3 linked regions of the Homo sapiens genome follow. The protein of the gene in region 1 interacts with the protein of each later gene in a pairwise test. Each region holds a gene or a part of one and is shown in the gene's direction. Other genes may lie near its edges.

Region 1 (7,038 bases):
AAAGGCTGAGAGCACAAACTGGAGCCAGACTGCTTGGGGGTGTGGGGATCTGGCTGTGCTCTGTGATCGCTGTGTGACCTTGGGCAGGTCACTTAACCTTTCTGGTACTGCGTTTCTTCATCTGCAAAATGGGAGTAATATCATAGGGATGCTGTGAGGATCTAAATGAGTTAATACTGATGAACTAACTGCTTAGAACAAGGTTTGCCCCTTACTAAATACTGTGCACGGTGGTAATAAGTAATAATAATTGATTTCTCCTACTTTTCTTCCTCTAGTCTATATCACTACCCTTCAGACACACTGGACTCTTTTCTCTCCTTCATACAAGTCAAGCCTTTTTCTGTCTCCAAGTCTCTGCTCTTGCTGTTTTCTTTACCTGTGTTCTCTCTCACATATCACTTTATGCTCTTCAGATCCTTTGTCGCAATGTCACCCTTATGTTTTATGGTATGGTCCTGCTGTGTTTTTGTCTTCCCTGACTGCATGCTCACTCGTGCTCTCTCTCAATCATGCGCTCTCTCTCTCTCTCCCTCCCTCCCTCTCTCTCCCTCCCTCTCCCTCCCTCCCTCCCCCCCACTCTCAACTGTGTATTCTAGAGAGTCAGGACCTTCCTTCTCATTCTTGATCATTCTCATAGTAGCCCTGCCCCTTGAGTGGAACATGGCATTTAGTAAAGGATGAATAAGGGAAGGAATCATTCTGAGAAAATACTGAAGATGATAGCTATGGACTTGAGGCAAGCATCCCATTTAGGTAAAATGCTTTGTCCGACATTGAATTTATCATATCAGCTTCATTTAATGCATTATGAGATGTTGTCTTTATTTTTCCTTCTGTATCCCATGGCTTCTCACCATTCCCCTCCCCCTCCACCCCGCCCTCTGAGGTTGCTGCCTGCAGACCATGGGAAACATCCAGTGGGTTGTCCCTGGGATCACATCTCTTGGGAAGCTCAGCTCCAAAGGGTCTAGCAAAGCCCAGGGCTTCTAGGTTAGGTATCTCCCACAGAACCTTCTGTGTCAAGAATCTGGGAAAGTTTGTCCTTATACCTGCAGGGGAACCTGGAATTTATTCTGTCTTGTTATAAATCTAGTATTCTTAGATTCCTGAAGAACAGAATTACCAGTTTTTTCTCAGAGGAGATTTCATCAGGCATGTGTGTTTAGTGCCTTATTACACAGAAGGCACACTCCAGAGAAGAAGAAAGCAGGTAATTTGCTTATTTGGCTTTAACAGAGTTTCAACAGAGTTCGTGTGAGTGCAAGCTTGTGCTCTATAACCAAGAACCATTCACTGGAACTTGAGCATCCTGCTGATCTTCCCTCCCCCACTCCCAGCCAGTGCAGCCATGTATTAAGCAATTGTTTTCAGTACCAACAGTTTACCAAAGTGTTGGAATAAAAACGACATCTAAAACTTGAATATTTTATATGGCCAAACTATGGCTATTTAACTATACAGTTGAATATATTTGGATTATAACATATTTATCTCTTAAAGGGACAGATCTTCCATCCTCCTAACATATAGTTAGCTTCCACTCTCCAAATATTCCACCAGCAACATTGATGAATATTGAAGACTATGGACTGTGAGGTACTGTGAAAGACCCACTCTAGGACCTGCTTGCTGCTATTTGCCTTACTTGAACCAGTAATCAAGTGCTGGATAAATAATATGATTTCTATTCAACTTTTTGTTTTTAGCCCTTAGGGAACAATCTACTGAATATGCAATGCAATTGTCGGGGGATAGTTACTTTTCATTACCTAGGTTTCTGTTCCTTCTTTTAAGTGTAATTTAAATCTGGCTGTCATGAAGGTTTGGCGCTCAAACAGATTTTAGCATCTGTTTAATGTAGAAGTGGACTGGAACTAGCATTCTGAAAATGTAGTCTGAACCCAAAGAAATCCCATGACTCTCCTTTTCTGTCCTATCATAGAAACAGATAATTACATTTTTAAAGTTTTTGTGTGTGGGTGTGTGTGTTGTCATTTTGAGGTGGGGTTTCACCATGTTGCCCAGGCTAGACTCAAACTCCTAGGCTGAAGCAGTCCTCCCACCTCAGCCTCCCAAGTAGCAGGGATTACAGGTGTGCACTACTGCACCCAGCTTAAGTTTTACTTTGTTTCTAATAGATATATAATATTGGATATATTTATGAGATACAGTGTGATGTTTTAGTACGTATATACATTGTGTAATGAGCAAGAGGATTGCGTTTATGGGCCAGGCACGGTGGCTCATGCCTGTAACCCCAGCACTTTGGGAAGCCAAGGTGGGTGGATCACCTGAGGTCAGGAGTTCGAGACCAGTCTGATCAACATGGTAAAAACCCATCTCTACTAAAAATACAAAAATTAACCGGGGCGTGGTAGCACACACCTGTAGTCCCAGCTACTTAGGAGGCTGAGGCAGAAGAATCACTTGAACCTGGGAGGCAGAGGTTGCAGTGAGCTGAGATGGCACCACTGCACTCCACCCTGGCAACACAGTGAGACTCCGTCTCAAAAAAAAAAAAAATTGTTTTTATGTTACTTCCCTCTAGGCTCTTTAATTTCTCCATTGAGCATTGTGTGAGCTCCGCTGAGCATTGTATGGAGGGTCAGCTGCCCTGGCTGGAGATGGTTTTGAGGCTTGTTCCTTCGTGGAAACATCTGGATGCAGAAGTTAGGCTGTACAACTATCCAGGGGAGCTTTAAGTGAGCCAAGTGGACCCTCAGCACCACCTCAGAGTGTTCTAAGCTACCGTCTGGTGTTTGGGACTCAGGGAAGTCCTTTTGGTATGATCAGACTAGCCCTTTATGTGACTATCCTTGTGTGTTACTCTCATTAAAATATTGATTTTTGCCATGTAAGGAAGATTGGAATAGCACAGGCAGCCGAATAAGGATTTTAATGAAACATTGGAGAATGGCTTCAAGTTAATCTGTGAATGCTTTGTCATTGTCCCATCCCTGGACACATTAAAAAGAAAAAAAAGAGCAGTTGAGAAATTGCAGTACAATTTGAGGAGAGCAATATCATACACAGAAGTAGGGACTACTTTTGTCAAAGCTGGATTTTATTTATTTGGGAGCAAAGAGAGAGAGCTGAAAGACATAATCTTCTCTCCCTTAAGAATCTCATTGTCATTTAGTAAAATAAAAGGTAGTGTCACTTCATGGCTCAGAAGTGGTAAATTATTTGAGGCAGGTACCCAAATCCATAAAGCCTGCCTTTTGCTTTGTTTGTGGAATGCTGATTGTGTGCTGGGGAATTTCTGATGGGCAGCCAAGAGGAATTTGGGAAGTAGTGAAGGAGACCTTTACCCCAGGAGTGTTCTATTGGATGTAGTTCAGGAAGCTTTCTGGGTAAGCCTTGCAACCAAAGGAACCCTGCCCCAGTAAGATACGTCAAATGGTGGCAGAAGCAAGAATTAGAGGAAAGGTTGAGCAACATTTTGGTATTTGAATAGCTGTGTTCCCAGGAAACTCTGTCAGTAAAATTTCTAGAGGTTAAGTACCTTAGCCAGATGTCATAATGAACCCCTGTGTTGCTAACTCAAATGCTGGAATGGAGCATGTGTTTTAGGAGTTAGACCAACACTGCCTCATCTTAAGCCCAAGTCTGATCACTCCTAAACTGAAACTTTGCAAATGTGTGTGTTGTAGCTTACTTAAAACCCATTGGGTGTCTGCTAACTCTGGCTACACTGAAAAGTTTTTGCTATTCTACCACCCACGGACGTCAGAGCCCTGCTGCTTACCAGGGCATGTTAGTCTCCTAATCTACCCCTGAAAACCTACCATGGCCCGGGGCTTTTCTGCTACCCCCCACGTCCTATACCCTGCTTGCTTCAAAATACTGTTCCTAGTTTTCTTCCCCTAACTTGATAATGTACTCCAAAACAATCATGTTTGGCAAGTAATACACTGATAAATGTAAAAGTTACAAATAGAAGTGCTGCTGTGTTTTTAAAACATTATAGGGCCAGGAGCAGTGGTTCATGCCTCTTATCCCAGCACTTTGGGAGGCTGAGAGAGGCAAATTGCTTGAGCTCAGGAGTTCGAGACCAGCCTGGCCAACATAGCGAAACCCCGTCTGTACTAAAAATACAAAAAATTAGCTGGGCATGGTGGCACACACCTGTAATATCAGCTACTTTGAGGCAGAAGGATTGCTTGAGTCCAGAGGTCAAGCCTGCAGTGAGCCCTGATTGTGCCACTTCCACTCCAGCCCGGATGACAGAGGGGGACCCTGTCTCAAAACAAAAACAAAACAAAACAAAAACCCAGCCAGGTACGGTGGCTCACACCTGTAATCCCAGCACTTTCGGAGGCCAAGGAGGGTGGATCACTTGAGGTCAGGAGTTCAAGACCAGCCTGGCCAACATGGCGAAACCCTGTCTCTACTAAAATACAACAATTAGCTGGGCATGGTGGTGCATGTCTGTAATCTCAGCTACTTAGGAGGCTGAGGCAGGAGAATCACTTGAACCCAGGAGGTGGAGGTTGCAGTGAGCCAAGATCGTGCCACTGCACTCTGCCACTCACTCTAGCCTGTGGGACAGAGAGAGACTCCGTCTTAAAAAAAAAAAAAAACCCACATTCTAGAAATAATTAGGTTTCTAAAGTATTCTTAAAAGGGGCATCTGTGGAAACCAGCCACTAATAACATATTTAAAGGAGAGAGACTGAATGCTTCCCCCTAAGATGAGGAAAGAGGCAAGGATGTCGGCACTTGCCACTGGTATTCAACATTGCATTGCCCCTAACCAGGACAATCAGTCAAGAAAAAAAAATAAATAAAAGACATCCACATTGGAAAGGAAGAAGTAAAACTGTCTCTCTTTGCAGATGGTATGATCCTCTATGTAAAGTATTCCAACGATCGTGGATCTGTCTCTCCCTCCCCTATGCTCTTGGGCCCTGGCTCTGTTTCTCTCCTGGAGTAGAAGCCTGTGGTGCAGCAGGATTCAATTGCCTTCAATTGAACGTTGCAGAGGACTTTCCCCTCGGTGCTTCCCGTACTGGGGGAAGAGGTGATTTAACTTCTGAGTAAGGGACAAACCCAGTAGTGTGTTAGTAGCAAAAAGCATGGACACTGGCATCAGTCTGCCTGTATTCAGACACCAGCTGTGCACTCATCAGCTGTGGGACCTTAGGCAAATTGTTGAATTTCTCTTTGCCTCCATTTCCTCATCCATAGAATGGGGATAATAATAGTAACTATCATATGGGATTGTTGTAAGGATGGAAAGTGTTAAAATATCTAAACTCTGTTACAGTGCCTGCCATAAAAGAAGCACTCTAGGCCTGGCGCGGTGGCCCATGCTTGTAATCCCAGCACTTTGGGAGGCTGAGGCAGGTGGACTGCTTGAGGTCAGGAGTTCGAGACCAGCCTGGCCAACATGGCGAAACCCCATCTCTACTAAAAATACAAAAATTAGCTGGGTGTAGTGACATGTGCCTGTGATCCCAGCTACTCTGGAGGTTGAGGCATGAGAATTGCTTGAACCCGGGAGGCAGAGGCTGCAGTGAGCTGAGATAGCACCCCTACACTCCAGCCTTGGTGACAGAGCAAGACCCTGTCTCAAAACAAAACAAAACAAAAGAAGCACTCTATGGGACCAGGTCTTATAGTTAGGTATTATATATGTAGTAGTGATATTTTCAGTTTTGCTGTTTCTGCCAGATGGGATGAAAAATTCCATGAGAAGTTGGCTGGAAGTCCTACTGATTCATTAAATAGGCCTTTCATTTGAAGTCATGTTTCTAATCATTCAGAAGTTGAGGTATGCCTGATCCATGGTATTAGAAGGGATGATCCCAGAGAGGTCATTCTGTAGCATAATGAGCATTACTTTTGAAGGATGGAGAACCTAGAACTCTGACTCATTTGACTATGGGAAAATCTGATCTGGTGAGTGACCATGACCATGAAGTGAGATCTGGTAACCCAATGGTGGTCACAGGATAGAGACTCTGAAGATACTGAGCTGGCTTACACACTTGCTTTGTTGTCTCGAACCTCTGTTAAAGCTGAAAGAAGAAGTCAGTCTTCTGCTGGGCACACTGTTAGTGTGTAATTGTGAAGAGCTTAGCTGGAGCTTGCTCTTCACAACAGTCTCTGATCTCATCAGCCCCATTCTGTTTTCAGGGGTGGTACAGAAGGAGCACCTCAGGAGCCTCCAAAGATAGTAGTAGAATATAACCACCAAGACAAGACTGTGACTGTGGTTTTGAATCAGATAGAATCACCACCTCCTGCAAATTTTGTTTTTGCTCAGAACAGTGGTTCTTAAAATGTGGTCCTTGACCAACATCATCAGCATTACCTAGGAACTAGTTAGATATGATAATACTCAGGCCCCACCTAACATGACTGAACCAGAAACTCTGGGACTGAGGTATGTTTTAACAAACTCTCCAGGTGATTTTAATGCCACCAAAGTTTGAGAACCACTGATCTAGGATATAGAACAGCAGCATTCTACTGAGTTTCTGTCTTCATGCAAGTTGCTATAAAAAATATAAGCAAGGAGACACGCTCTCTGTCCTCAAAGAGCACATAGTCCATCTAGAGAGGTATACTATATTCAATGCCACACAAAGGAGGCCTTCCCAGCCGGGATCCTGATGCAACAGCCCTGCCCAGTCTCTATGCCATTGCCGTGTGTTTTCCCCAGAAGAGTTCCCATTCTTGGCCAGGTGCCTGTAATCCTAGCACTCTGGGAGGCTGAGGCAGGTGGATCACCTGAGGTCAGGAGTTCGAGACCAGCCTGGCCTACGTGGTGAAACCCCGTCTCTACTAAAAATACAAAAATGAGCCTGGTGTGATGGTGGGCACCTATAATCCCTGCTACTCGGGAGGCTGAGGAAGGAGAATCACTTGAACCCAGGGGGCGGAGGTTGCAGTGAGCCTAGATCGTGCCACTTCACTCTAGCCTGGGGGGAAGAGCAAAACTTTGTCTCAAAACAAAAAAAGAGTTCCCACTCCCTGAAGCTGTTTTTTGTTTGCATGTTTGTTGTCAGTCTCCTGTCATCATTCGAA
Region 2 (6,851 bases), on another chromosome or scaffold:
CTGGCCACATGGCAAAACCCCATCTCTATTAAAAATACAAAAATTAGCCAGGCATGGTGGCTCACGCCTGTAGTCCCTGCTACTCAGGAGGGTGAGACAGGAGAATCGCTTGAACCCGAGTGGCAGAAGTTGCAGTGAGCAGAGATCACGCCACTGCACTGCTGCCTGGGCAACAGAGCGGGACTCTGTCTCAAAAAAAAAAAAAAAAAGAGTAAAGCCCGGACACACACTACAACATGAACAAACCTTGAAAACATGCTAACTGAAGAAGCCAGAGAGAAAAGGCTACATATTATGATTTTATTCATATGAAATGTCCCGAATAGACAAATCCATAGAAACCAAAAGTAGATTGGAGCTTTCTAGGGGTTGGCTGGGAGGAGTAAGAATGGGGAGTAACTGTTCACGGGTTCATGGAGTTCTTTTTTTTTTTTTTTTTTTTGAGATCAGGTCTCACTCTGTTGCCCAGGCTGGAGTGCAGTGGCACAATCAGGTCACTGCAGCCTTGACCTGCTGGACTCAGGTGATCCTCCCACCTCAACCTCCTAGGTAGCTATAGGTGCATGACACCACGCCCCACTAATTTTTGTATTTTTTTGTAGAGACGAGATTTTGCCCTGTTGTTCAGGCTGGTCTCAAACACCTCAGCTCAAGCGATCTGCCCATTTGGTCCAACTAAAGTGCTGGGATTACAGGGTTGAGCCACTGCACCTGGGCCAGAGTTTCTTTTTGGAGTGATGGAAATTTTCTAAAATTGATTGTGGTGATGGTTGTACAATTCTATGAATACACTAGAAACCAGTGAGTTGCACACTTTAAACAGGTAGATTGTATAGTACGTGAATTATATCTCAATAAAGCTGTTAGAGATATTAAATATGTATAAATAAGAAAAAATAGGAATGAAATAATATGCTATCATTTGAAAAAATGATAACATGTTATCTACTCTGGCAGGATATTCAAGAAACTTGGTAACAGCAATAGATGAGGTGGAAGAGGAGGCTAGGAAGAAGATTTAATTTTGGTATCATGTTCAAGTACTCCTATTCAAATAAGTTAAGTAACTCATTTTTTTTTAATTTGGAAAGCAGGTCTGGCGTGGTGGTTCATGCCTGTAATACCTGCACTTTGGGAGGCCGAGGCGGGTCATCACCTGAGGTCAGGAGTTTGAGACCAGCCTGACCAATATGATGAAACCCCGTCTCTACTAAAAATACAAAAATTAGCCGGGCGTGGTGGCATGCCCTTGTAATCCCAGCTACTCGGGAGGCTGAGACAGGAGAATCGCTTCAACCCGGGAGGCAAAGGTTGCAATGAGCCGAGATCGTGCCATCGCACTGCAGCCTGGGTGACAGAGCAAAACTCCGTCCAAAAAAAAAAAAATTGGAAAGCAATTTGGGCCTCGTTCCTGCGACCACAGCCCCAACCTGGGTCGGGGGTCCCAGTGACCTTACCCCTCCCTGCAGACCCCAGGACGGGCGGTCTTCAGGGCTAGGCGCCCTGGCTCTGCAAGGGCCCCAGTCTGGGGTTTGGCTCACCTGTGCCTCCGAAAACCACCACCAGTTTCTTGTCCACCATGAGGACGAGAATGGGACGAATCCGGTCCAGAGATCTGGGGGTAATGGGAGGCGTGGAGTTGGGGGTGGGGCCGGGGTTCCCGCCAGGAGCGACAAAGGACACCCCCATTGTCTATGCATCGAGTATGTGTCGAAGGGGGCGGCTGGGCCCGGAGCGGCAAGACGCCTGTCCCGAGATATCGGGGTCCCGCGACCCACCTCGTGTCCCTTGGGCCCGATCCCCTCCTCCTTCCCGCCTCCCCCGGTTCCAGTCACCCGCCCCCCGGCCCGGGTCCCACCGGCTGGAGTGACCTCCTCGCCGCGGCCTGGGCGGGACAAGTTCCAGGAGCCCGGGACCCCGATTCTGCGGCCGAGTCCACTGCAGAGGCGGGGATGGAGCTGCGCGCTAGGCGCCAACTCCCTCCCCGCAGCTCCGGCCCCACCTGGCAGAGCGCCGCTCACGGAAGCCCAGCGTCGGAGGACCCCTGGCTGCAGCCGCCAATCCCGACGTGTCGGCCGAAACCCCTCCTCCGGCGCAGTTGGCTCCTCCTGGATCCCGCGGGACTCGGCGTCGTTTCCGGGTTTGCCCGCCCCAGGCACGTGCACAGTGAGTTTGTGTAAATCCAGTTAGACCAAAATGAGCGAGGTGGAGAGCCTCTTAACCGGATGCTACGGGTGATGACTGGGAGGAGGAGAAAAATTACCTCTTTATCTTGCATGAACATCTTAATTTTCAGGTATTGGGCGTCAGGCAAAGATAATTAAAGCTATGTCCATGAGTCTTATCCCTTGAGGCCTTGTCCGCTTGATATTTTCTTTGCCTAACTCACTTTTAAAATTTTATTATTTTTATTTTTTTGAGACAGTGTCTTGGTCCGTCGCCCAGGCTGGTGTGCAGTGGCGCGATCTCGGCTTACTGCAACCTCCGCCCCCCGGGTTCAAGAGATTCTCCTGCCTCAGCCTCCCGAGTAGCTGGGATTACAAGCATGTGCCACCAAGCCCGGCTAATTTTTGTATTTTTTAGTAGAGACGGGGTTTCACCAGGTTGACCAGGCAGGTCTCGAACTCCTGACTTAAAGTGATCCACCCACCTCAGCCTCCCAAAGTGCTGGGAGTACAGGTGGGAGCCACCGTGCCCAGCCCTAACTCACTTCTGAAGTTGCTGCTACTTGCACTGATTTCAGTTTTTTTTTGTTTTTGTTTTTTGTTTTCAAGGTGGAGTCTTGCTCTGTGGCCCAGGCTGGAGTGCAGTGGTGGTGCGATCTTGGCTCACTGCAACTTCCGCCTCTTGGGTTCAAGTGATTCTCCTGCCTCAGTTTCCTGAGTAGCTGGGATTACAGGCAGGAGCCACCATGCCCGGCTAAAATTTTTTTGTATTTTTGGTAGAGACGGGGTTTCAACATGCTGGCCAGGCTGGTCTCGAACTGCTGACCTCAAGTGATCTTCCCGCCTCAGGCTCCCAAAGTGCTGGGATTACAGACATGAGCCACCACACCCGGCCCACGATTTCAGTAATTTCTTTGTGTTCAGTAAAACTAAAAAATGACTCTGGGCTGGGTGCGGTGGCCTGTAATTGCAGTGATTTGGGAGGCCGAGGCGGGTGGATCACCTGAGCTCAGGAGTTCGAGACCAGCCTGGCCAACATGGTGAAACCCCCGTCTCTACTAAAAATACAAAAATTAGCCGGGCGTGGTGGCAGGCGCTTGTAATCCCAGCTATTCGGGAGGTTAAGGCAGGAGAATCGCTTGAACCCGGGAGAAGGGGGTTGCAGTGAGCCGAGATCACGTCATTGCACTCCAGCCTGGGCGACGAGCAAAACTCGGTCTCAAAAAAAGAAAAATCATTCTGTCATTCTGGCCGCTGTTTGAAGAATGCGAATAATGCAACAGGGAGATCAGATACAAGACTGGTAACCGAGGTGTCAGAGTTGAGACTCAGTTTCGCAGATTGCATTGGCAAGTGACCAAGTGGGTGGTGCCACGGTTGACAACCCTATTTCTTACATCACTGAGTGGATGTACAAGGATTAAACCACACTGGGGAAGAAAAGTGCTCAACCCTGAGGCACCCTCACACACCTCGGCTCTTGTGAACACTAGTGTTCCTGCCGAAGCACGCCTACTTACCCCGCTGAGCAGAGCCTGAGCCTGCAACCTCCAGAGACCTGGGGAAAGCCACATACTCCGCTTCCCGCCCCCGGCAAGGGCGTGTCAGCTACAAGGGGCGTGTCATCTCTAGGCCCCGCCCCGCGCTGCGTGCCCACGTTGCGCCGGCCTCGCGCCAGTCCGCTGGGCTGCAGGGACTGCGGCGCCTGAGGGAGTCGCTGACGGGCACGCTGACTGGAGGCTGGCGGACAGGCGACAGCGACCTGCGGCAGGTGAGCTGTCCGCGCCCTCCCGGGGCCTTCCTTCCGCCCGGCTTCTCGGACCGCGCTGCGTCCTTCGCGGGCCCTGCCTCGGTCCAGGCCTTCGGACCTGGGCTTGGCCGGGCCACAGCCCTTTGGGTCCCCTGCGCCGGTCTGAGGGGAGACCCGGCCGGGGGCGGCCGGAAGCTGGGTGAGGCCGGGCAGAAGGACGAAGAAGGGCGTGGAGGGGCTGTCAGGGGAGGGCGAAACCGCGGACGCCGCTCTCCAGAAGTCGTCTCCCCGGGGGCGCGGGGAGGCCTGAATGGCTCTCTTTGGCGTCCCCGTTGGGCCCACCCTCTCCCAGCGTCACGGCTATGCTGGGCGAGGTGACCCCCGGGGTCGTAGCTGGGGGCGTCGGCGGTGCAGACAGGGGATGCCGGCAGAGATTGGAGCCCGGCTTGGCTGTTTCCCGGGCTGTTGGCATTGACCGGGGCTCTGCCCTTCCTCTAATGCCCTTATCTCTATAGGAAGTGCCCCTTGAGTGGGTGTCGTGACTTCACGAGTGAACCCTGGTACGCCCTGGAGCAGAGTCGGACTGGGAGGGATCAAGTGTGGGGGCAGCCGGTTAGTCCGGACGCGGGTTTACCTATTACTTTCTGAGCGCAGTGCTCTGGGTGGATTAATTGCCCTGCAAAAGCTGCCGGGACCTCCTTGCAGTCTTTGCACGAGGCCTGCCTGTGTCATGCCATTTAAATCGCGTCTGGGCCGGGTCGGTGGCTCACGCCTGTAATTCCAGCACTTTGGGAGGCCAGGGCGGGCGGATTGCTTGAGGTCAGGAGTCCGAGACCAGCCTGGCCAACATAGTGAAACCCCGTCTCTACTAAAAATACAAAAATCAGCCGGGCATGGTAACGTGAGCCTGTAGCTCCAGCTACTTAGGAGGCTGAGGCAGGAGAATCGCTTGAACCCGGGAGGCAGAGGTTGCAGTGAGCCGAGATCACGCCATTGCACTCCAGCCTGGGCGACAGAGCAAGACTCCATCTAAAAAAAAAAAAAAAAAAAAAAAAAATCGCTTCTGATGAGCCGGTTGTCGTGGCCTGTGGCTGTCCATCCTTACGTACTGTGTTTTGTTGATGGCGCTACAAACCAGACAAGGTGGAGTGTGATTGAAGAAAGAAACGCTGGCCGGTGCAGTGGCTCACTCCTGTAATCCCAGCACTTTGGGAGGCCGAGGCAGGCGGATCACCTGAGGTCAGGAGTTCGAGATCAGCCTGGCCAACATGGTGAAACCCCGTCTCTACTAAAAATACAAAAAAGTTAAACGGGCGGGGTGGCGCGTGTCTGTAATCCCAGCTACTGGGGAGTTTGAGGTTGGAGGATCACTTGAGCCCACGAAGTGGAGATTGCAGTGAGCTGAGATCGCATCACTGCACTCCAGCCTGGGTGACAGAGTGAGACCCTGTCTCAAAAAAGAAAAAAATAAATTATCACAAGACAAAATTTGTGCTTATCAGGAGTTCACAGTTAAGACATATATAAGCTTACTTGGTGAAATTAGAAAAAGTTATCAGATAAAACATTCAGGTTTAAACACTGGTGAGGGTGTGGGAATTTGTGGAGCCTTGGAAACACACTCATTGAATGACCTCATCTACCTGGGGATGTGAAGAGGGAAATCCTGTGATTCCTCCATTGTCTGACTTGATTTCCTTTTTTCCTTGGCTGTGGCAACATGTTGAAGTGCTGTGAGTCACCAAAAGGGGGAACGTGAGCAACTCTAGAAATGCCAGTGCCAGTGAGTTACAGACAATAAAGCATTGACCGCCTTTAGCTCACCCCTCATCAAGTCTGTTGAAAACTTGTAAAATTGGACAGCTAGAGCTACCTTGATTTTTTGGTTTCCTTTTAACAGCTGACTCTCTTCACAGGACAGTTGGGCTCTACATCAGGATTGCACCCAAAACTGGAATATCACTCCTCCAGGAGGAAGATATATTTGAAAATTAGAATTGTGGGCCCGGTGCAGTGGCTCATGCTTGTGATCCCAGCACTTTGGGAGGCCGAGATGGGCGGATCACCTGAGGTCGGGAGATAGAGACCAGCCTGACCAACATGGAAAAACCCCATCTCTACTAAGAAAAAAATAATAATAATACAAAAATTAGCTGGGCATGGTGGTGTGTGCCTGTAATCCGAGCTACTTGGGAGGCCGAGGCAGGAGAATCACTTGAACCTGGGAGGCAGAGGTTGCGATGAGCCAAGATTGTGCCACTGCATTCCAGCCTGGGCAACAGGAGCAAAACTGCATCTCAAAAAAAAAAAAAAGAAAGAAAGAAAATTAGAATTGTGTATTTCACTGTAAAATTTGAAATTCAGCTTTAACTCCTTGGAAAGGAAAGAGATGAAAAACTTGACCTAGACTGGGTGCGGTGGCTCACGCCTGTAATCCCAGCACTTTGGGAGACCAAGGCGGGTGGATCACCTGAGGTCAGGAGTTCGAGACCAGCCTGGCTAACATTGTGAAACCCCGTCTCTACTAAAAATACAAAAATTAGCCTTGCAAAAAGTAGCCTGTAATCCCAGCTACTCGGGAGGCTGAGCAAGGAGAATTGCTTGAACCTGGGAGGCAGAGGTTTCAGTGAGCCAAGATCATGCCATTGCACTCCAGCCTGGGCGACAAGAGCAAAACTTCATCTCAAAGAAAAAAAAATTCTATCAGAGTGAACAATAAGTAGGATGCTAGCACATACCTGTAATCTCAGCTACTTGGGAGGCTGAGGCAGGAAGTTAATACTTGATGAGCCTAAGTTTTTGGTGTCTTTGGATGCTGCTTGTCGATCTAAGGGGTTTCCAAACGCTTCTTTTTTGGTAAAATTGGGATTATGACTAGGAATCTGTTTTTTGGAGTTTCCCAGGTGATCCTTGTTTGGGGTCCTTGTCTAAGGCAC
Region 3 (7,038 bases), on another chromosome or scaffold:
TCACGCCCGGCTAATTTTTGCATTTTTTAGTAGAGACGGGGTTTGGCCATGCTGGCCAGGCTGGTCTCAATCTCCTGACCTCAGGTGATCCACTCGCCTTGGCCTCCCAAAGTGCTGGGGTTACAGGCATAAGTCACCACGCCTGGCCAGAATATGTGTTTTGGTTCAAGACAACCAAAATAGTAGTAGGCAGCTAAGGCGGCTTTCCTTGCAACAAAACCAGATAAAAAGACTCCTGGATAAAGCGCCCTTCACCCCTCCCTGCCTCTTGCTTTCCCATCAGCCTACTTGCCACGTTCCCCTGCAGCTACAGGGCAGAAGTGGCCAACACAGAGATCCACACTCTCTCGAAAAGTCAGCCTCCAGATTCTTTCTCCTCCTTCCCCTCCTCCTCCATGTCAGTAAGCACTGAGAGCTGTTACCTACACCCAACTTGTGGCAGGGGCGTTGGCAGCACAAGCTCCGTATTTTGCTCGTTTCCAGTGTTTCACTGGAAAAAAGTATGGACCATGACTCCAGATGACGAGTCTTCAGAAAACACCATTCCTGAGAGACTGTGTTTAATATCCTCTCCCAGTTTGAAAAGGAGTTTGTTTTCTTACATCTTTTTTTAATTGCCATGAGCTGGACTTGTAAATATTGTAAGTGGTTGAGTAATACTCATCTGGTAAACTGACCAAAGGAAATGGACATTTTTTTCCACTCTTGTAACCCTGGCATCCCATGCCTGCCCCTGAAAGGGACTCTTGAGTATTGGAAGGGAAAATCTGCCTCGCCAGGTGCCAGCGGGCCCAGGGCAGGAGCTGAGTGAAGCGCAGAGAAACGATCCCGAAGTCAGGAGCCGCAGCAGGTGTTCTGTGCTAGGGTTGGGGGCAGAGAGCATTCATTGTTTAAGAAGTTGGCAGCCTCCCAGAAGTTCAACTGTCTTTCCTTGTTCTGAAATGTCAAACATTTCCTTAGCTGGGGGAATGGATGAGTAGACCCCCCTGAGGTTTAAGAACTATTCTGAGGCAGAAGAAGGAAGTTCTGCTTTTCACACGTGACCGAGTACGATGTGAGGTCCCATGTCCCTCCGGCAGGGGGGTCGGCTGCGCCCCTGAAACTGGAGCCACCTTCCTACATCAGAAGAGTTGCCAGCTCTTCCCTGCCTCTGCCTTTAGGAACCGTCAGACCCTCTGTGGTTATGTGGGTAGTGGGGGAGTGTGTGTGTCTTTTTAATGGTGCCTTTTAGTGATACTTACTGAAATATTTGTAGATGACCTATGTCTGGAATTTGTTTCAAAATAATATGCAGGAGACAGGGAGCAGGTGAGGGTTTGCATAAAGCCAGACAGGCCATGAATGGATCCTTGCGAAAGCTGACGGATGGGCTCATCACTGTTCTGCGTGCCCTTCGGTCTGCTTTTGTATATGTTTAAAATTTTCCATCATAAAACGTTAAGGAAGGGAAGGAGGGAGGGAGAAAGAGAAGAGGATGAAAAGAGAAGAAACTCTTGATCCCGGTGTTTCAACCCCAGTGAGTCTGAGCCTCTCTCCCCGAGGGACCCCCACACTGTCTCGAATCAGGATGCCTCCACTCAAGCTCCACTGGTGTAGACAAGGGTGAGCGTGTGGGCAGAGGGGTCCTACCCACCTGGATTCCAATTCTAGTTCTTCCTCTTACCCGCCAGAGGGCCTTAGGTAGGAGAGTTCACCTTCCAGAACCCCAGCTTCCTCAGATATAAAACAGAGATGAGGGTTACTTACTGTGCAGAATTAAACCAAGTAATACACCCATAGCACTTAGTGCCAAACCTGGCACGCATGACTGTTTCATGAACGGTGTGGCTCAGCTTTCCCTGGCTTCAAAAAGATCCCTGCTTACTCATTCCGAAACATCCTTCAGAGGAGAGAAACTCCATTCAGAAAGGTGCCAGAGCTGGGATCACATTCGAAGAAAGCCAAACTTCTTAAAGAAAAAGGATTGCCGTGCTAAGGTAGATAAACACCTTCTCTTTGACCCAAAGAATCCAAAAGACAGCAGTTGGCTTTTGCTTATCGCTGTCACCTGCCATCTTAAAACGACCTCCTCAGTTGACCCTCAGTATATACCAGTTTACTTAAGCCTGTTTAAAGTCTCCCCCTGTTTGCTCTGAAAGGGTTTAAAATATAAAAGCCTTATTTGTCATGGCTCCTAAAATCCTCCTTTTCATCTTGGGACAAGAACCCAGTTTATCACATCTTATCAGCTTACTGTCCAAGATGTCCATCACTCAAGTTCATTTTCATTTATTTATTTATTTATTTATTTATTTATATATTTATTTATTTATTTATTTATTTATTTTGAGATGGAGTCTTGCTCTGTTGCCCAGGCTGGAGTGCAGTGGCACAATCTCAGTTCACCACAACCTCCGCCTCCCGAGTTCAAGTGATTCTCCTGCCTCAGCCTCCCAAGTAGCTGGGACTACAAGCGTGCACCACCATGCCCGGTTAATTTTTGTATTTTTAGTAGAGACGTGGTTTCTCTGTGTTGGCCAGGCTGGTCTCAAACTCCTGACCTCAGATGATCCGCCCGCCTTGGCCTCCCAAAGTGCTGGGATTACAGGCGTGAGCCACAGCGCCTGGCCCATTTTCATTTTTTATAGATAATGTGTGCCCTGTCATGCCTTTCCTGGGGCACAGTTTGTCTAATTCACAGCATCTGTGGTAGAAAAATTAGCAGCTTAGCCACCACTGTATTAATAATAGTTCCACTAGACCCACCCACCATGCGCTAAAACTGTACTATGAAAGGTCTCTGCAGCTCTTCTGTGGAAGAGCATTCTTCTATCTTGTCTCTGTAGTATTGTGGGTTGGCATTGGCCACTTTTTGAATTTTCTTACTCATTGGCCTTCTTGCCACATTTTCTCAGCTTCTCCCTCTCTGCTGACCACTCCTTCTATGCCTCTCTTGACTCTTCTTATCCCTTCCAAAAATTCAATACATTTACTCATTTGTTTTATACACACACACACACATGCACACACGTGCGCGTGTGTGTGTGCCTCTTTCCTGTGCCAGGCTCTGTTCTAGGTACGGGGGATATGGCGGTGAACGAGAACCCACAGTCCCTGGTGTAGATGTTCATGTGTCCAGGAGAGACAGACAGTAACTGAGTACCTAAATAATGATTCAAGGCCGGGCGCGGTGGCTCACGCCTGTAATCCCAGCACTTTGGGAGGCCCAGGAGGGCAAATCACTTGAGGTCAGGAGTTCGAGACCAGCCTGGCCAACATGGTGAAACCCTGTCTCTACTAAAAATACAAAAATTAGCCGGGCATAGTGGTGGGCACCTGTAATCCCCGCTACTTGGGAGGCTAAAGCAGGAGAATTGCTTGAACCCAGGAGGCGGAGGCTGCAGTGAGCCAAGATCACGTCACCGCACTCTAGCCTGGGCGCGAGACTCCATCTCAAAAAAAAAAAAGATTTAATAAGAGTTACCATGGAAACTTAGGGGGGCAAAGAGGGCACAGGTAACTGGAGGATGACAAAGAGTTCTTTGGGAAAATGCCACTGAGTTTGAGGGATTAACTAGACCACGAGTGGGGAGCTCCCGGATGGAAAGGATAGCGCGTGTCGAAGCTGGGAGGCAGGGCCCCTACCTTCTGCATCAGCCTGTTGGGGGCACCGGAGACAGCCAGGATGGCTCAAACACAGCGCGCAGAGTGCGGCTGCAGGGTTGCTGGGTCAGACTGTGCAAGACCCCCTTGGCCACTGTAAAGTTTGGATCTCAGTTTCAGCCACTGGAGGATTTAAGCAAGGAGGTGACCTGATCTCCTTTACATTCTGAAAAGCTTGCTGTAGTTCCATCGTGGAGCAGGGACCGGGGAAAGCAGTCCCTCACTGCAGGGAGCCAAATCAGGGATGGCAGTGACTGCGCATGCCTTGAGGCCTCTTCCCTTGGACCTCACGCTCCGGGTGTATGAACCAAAACCAGATGTGTGTTTTCTTCTTCCCAATCAGTTGTTGTTCTTGATTTCTTTGTTCTTGTCACTTGCTCCGCTCTTCTCATAATCACCCTGATTTGACAATTCACGGTCATTCATACTGGCCTCTGCTCCAGGCCATCAGAGCCTCAGTGTGGAGCCTGCCTTGATGCATGGAGCTTCTGGGCCCAAGTGTCCTCCCAACTGTGATCCCACTGGAGCTTCAGGAGCAGTACCTCTTCCTAAAACACCTCTCATCCTCTCCCTCATCTCCTCAGCTGCCAGCCCCTCCCTGTCATCTTAGGGTGAGCCCAGGCCCTGGAGTGCCAGGGATTGCCCCTTCGCCCCATCCCAGCCTGTGCCTGCCTCCTCATTCTCGTTATCTTCTCCTCATGTTGCGCAACATAAACCTTCACCCAGCCAGGACCAAGTCTTCAGCTGATCACCACACAGGCACCAGAATAACCAAGAACTAGTGAAGCTCCTGCCCAGGGGAGCTTTTGGTCAACCTGAAGATGTTTCTGGAGCAGAAATCAGTGAAAAGATTTGTTCTTCTGCTTCTGGCAAGAAGATGGACTAAGATATTCTCACATACACACACATACGCATACACACACACACCCGTATCCCTACCTTCTCACTGCAGATGGACTAAGATATTCACACACACACACACACACACACACACACACACACACCCCTACCCCTGCCTTCTTGCTGCAAGCATCTTGAAATGTGAGGTAAAATAGTGTAACTCCACCCACCCACAAATGTTAATGCAGGGCTGAATTTACAAGGAAGAAAGGAAATCCCTAGATGAAAGAAATGAAGAGCGCATTGAAGGCCAGCGCCTAAGTGGGCGAACTGATGCTGCAGGTGGGTCATCATCATGATGATGGAGAGCAGGAGCTAGCAAGCCTCTGGAAGAGGCCAGGTCGTAAACGGTTTAGGCTGTGCAGACCACAGACGGTGTCACATCTCCTCCTTTTACCTTTTTGACAACCCTCTACAAATATAAAAACCATTGTTAGCTCATGGGTTGCACAAAAACAGAGCACAGCTAGATTTGGCCCATGAACCAAAGTTGGCAGAGCCTTGAGGTAGACTAGGATGAGGTTTTCATCTACAGGAAGACGGGGGAGAAACCTTGGGGCCCCAAGAGAAGCGTTTCTCAAAAGATTGGATCATCAGAGAAAGAGCCCATATCAGAAAAATGCAACCACAGTCACAGGTAGATGACAAAGAAGCTTGCCCTAGTTTTTTTTTTTATTTTCGTTTTCTTTTTTTTTTTTTTTTGAGACAGAGTTTCACTGTTGTTGCACAGGCTGTATTGCAGTGGTGTGATCTCAGCTCACTGCAACCTCCGCCTCCCGTGTTCAAACGATTCTCTTGCCTTAGCCTCCCAAGTAGCTGGGATTACAGGCACCCACCACCACACCTGGCTAATATTTTTTTTTTTTTTGAGACAGAGTCTTGCTCTGTTGCCCAGTTTGGAGTGCAGTGGCGCAATCTCGGCTCACTGCAAGCTCCGCCTCCCGGGTTCACGCCATTCTCCTGCCTCAGCCTCCCAAGTAGGTGGGACTACAGGCGCCTGCCACCACGCCAGGCTAATTTTTTGTACTTTTAGTAGAGATGGGGTTTCACCATGTTAGCCAGGATGGTCTCGATCTCCTGACCTCATGGTCCGCCCGCCTCGGCCTCCCAAAGTGCTGGGATTACAGGCGTGAGCCACTGCGCCCGGCCAATTTTTTAAATATATTTTTAGTAGAGACGGGGTTTCACCATGTTAGCCAGGCTGGTCTCGAACTCCTGACCTCAGATGATCTGCCCGCCTCGGCCTCCCAAAGTGCTGGGATTACAGGCATGAGGCACCGTGCCCGGCCTATTTTTTTAAATATATTTTTAATAGAGATGGGGTTTCACCATGTTGGTCAGGCTGGTCTCGAACTCCTGACCTCAGATGATCCGCCCGCCTTGGCCTCCCAAAGTGCTGGGATTACAGGTGTGAGCCACTGCACCCAGCCACTTGCCATACATTTTTAAGTCTCTTCAATATTCAAAACCATGGTGCAGTGCCCACATGGGTTGAGCTTAAGATTGGTATGGCCTGATCCACATTGAACCCTGAGGATCTGTGGAGGGGATTCGGGAAGCCCGTGAACTTGGACCGGAAAGCAAATTGGACTCTTATGTTCACAAATGTCTAATTGAAATTTAGCATTTTCTTTGCTCACGAACATATGCCACAGACTACCGTGGCGTTCAGCAGTCCTGATGGCTGTGCAACCATGTGACCCTGCACACGTGGCTCTCCCTGTTACTTTCTGAAGCATTTTCATGGACCTCTCCTCCTCTGCTACCCACCTCTCTCGTGGGGCCTTGGCAGCTCAAGGACTCTTCAGTGAGCAAACCTTTCTTGAGTGCTTACTTTGTAGTAGGGCGCCCCTTCTCTGTTATGCTATACCTTGTCGCCGCTGGTACCTGGCACGTGGTAAACACTCGTTAAATACTGGGCAAGCGAACATGGGAGACAGTGAGCTCATTGCACTAAGTGAGGGCTGCATTCTGTGGGGCCCACTTCATCAGCATCAGGTGAAGGAACAGGCAATGGTCAGTGCAGACACACGACCCAGAGGAGGCAGGGCGGGGCTGGAAGGCAGAGTGGCACCCAGCATGGGCTGGCTAGGAGGGCCTGTGCTCTCCAGCCAAAAACGTCAGGAAATGAAACTAGCAAATACTAGCAGAAAAAGTATATATCAAAACAAGCACCTCTATCGGTGAATATTTTTACAAATGGGTGACTTAAGGATCTTGGACTCAAGAACACAAAGTGAAGCCATGTGGAGAATGGAGAAATGGGTTCTAGAATGCTCTCCTAAGCCCTTTGCTTTATCAATGCGTCATCAATGCATAATCTGATTGGGTAGTGAGGGTGGCTGTCGTCAGCAGCTTGCGCCCTCCCTTGTGGTCCAAGGTGTACACAGATGCTAGAGTTAGGGGCCTCACCCCCTCCTGGCTTGAGTGCTGCCTGGGGGGGCCTGGCCACACCCAGGCCCCTGCCTTCTGCACTCAGCATCCTGCAAAGCCAGA

The links.
Region 2: the proteins of MGST3 (region 1) and HMOX2 interact in binary tests that used the Homo sapiens proteins (3 or more experiments, as listed by UniProt).
Region 3: the proteins of MGST3 (region 1) and STX8 interact in binary tests that used the Homo sapiens proteins (3 or more experiments, as listed by UniProt).

Annotation. Positions count from the first base shown.
Region 1 is NC_000001.11:165,634,224-165,641,261, forward strand, and holds part of MGST3 (glutathione S-transferase 3, mitochondrial), read left to right. Parts: intron 1-7,038. UniProt on the Homo sapiens protein: Displays both glutathione S-transferase and glutathione peroxidase activities toward oxyeicosanoids, as part of cellular detoxification as well as synthesis of bioactive metabolites.
Region 2 is NC_000016.10:4,472,552-4,479,402, forward strand, and holds the start of HMOX2 (heme oxygenase 2), read left to right. Parts: upstream 1-3,846; 5' UTR 3,847-3,936; exon of another isoform or gene 3,937-4,114; intron 4,115-6,712; exon of another isoform or gene 6,713-6,851. Other genes in the region: NMRAL1 (nmrA-like family domain-containing protein 1), read right to left, coding at 1,542-1,581.
Region 3 is NC_000017.11:9,250,816-9,257,853, reverse strand, and holds part of STX8 (syntaxin-8), read left to right. Parts: intron 1-7,038. UniProt on the Homo sapiens protein: Vesicle trafficking protein that functions in the early secretory pathway, possibly by mediating retrograde transport from cis-Golgi membranes to the ER.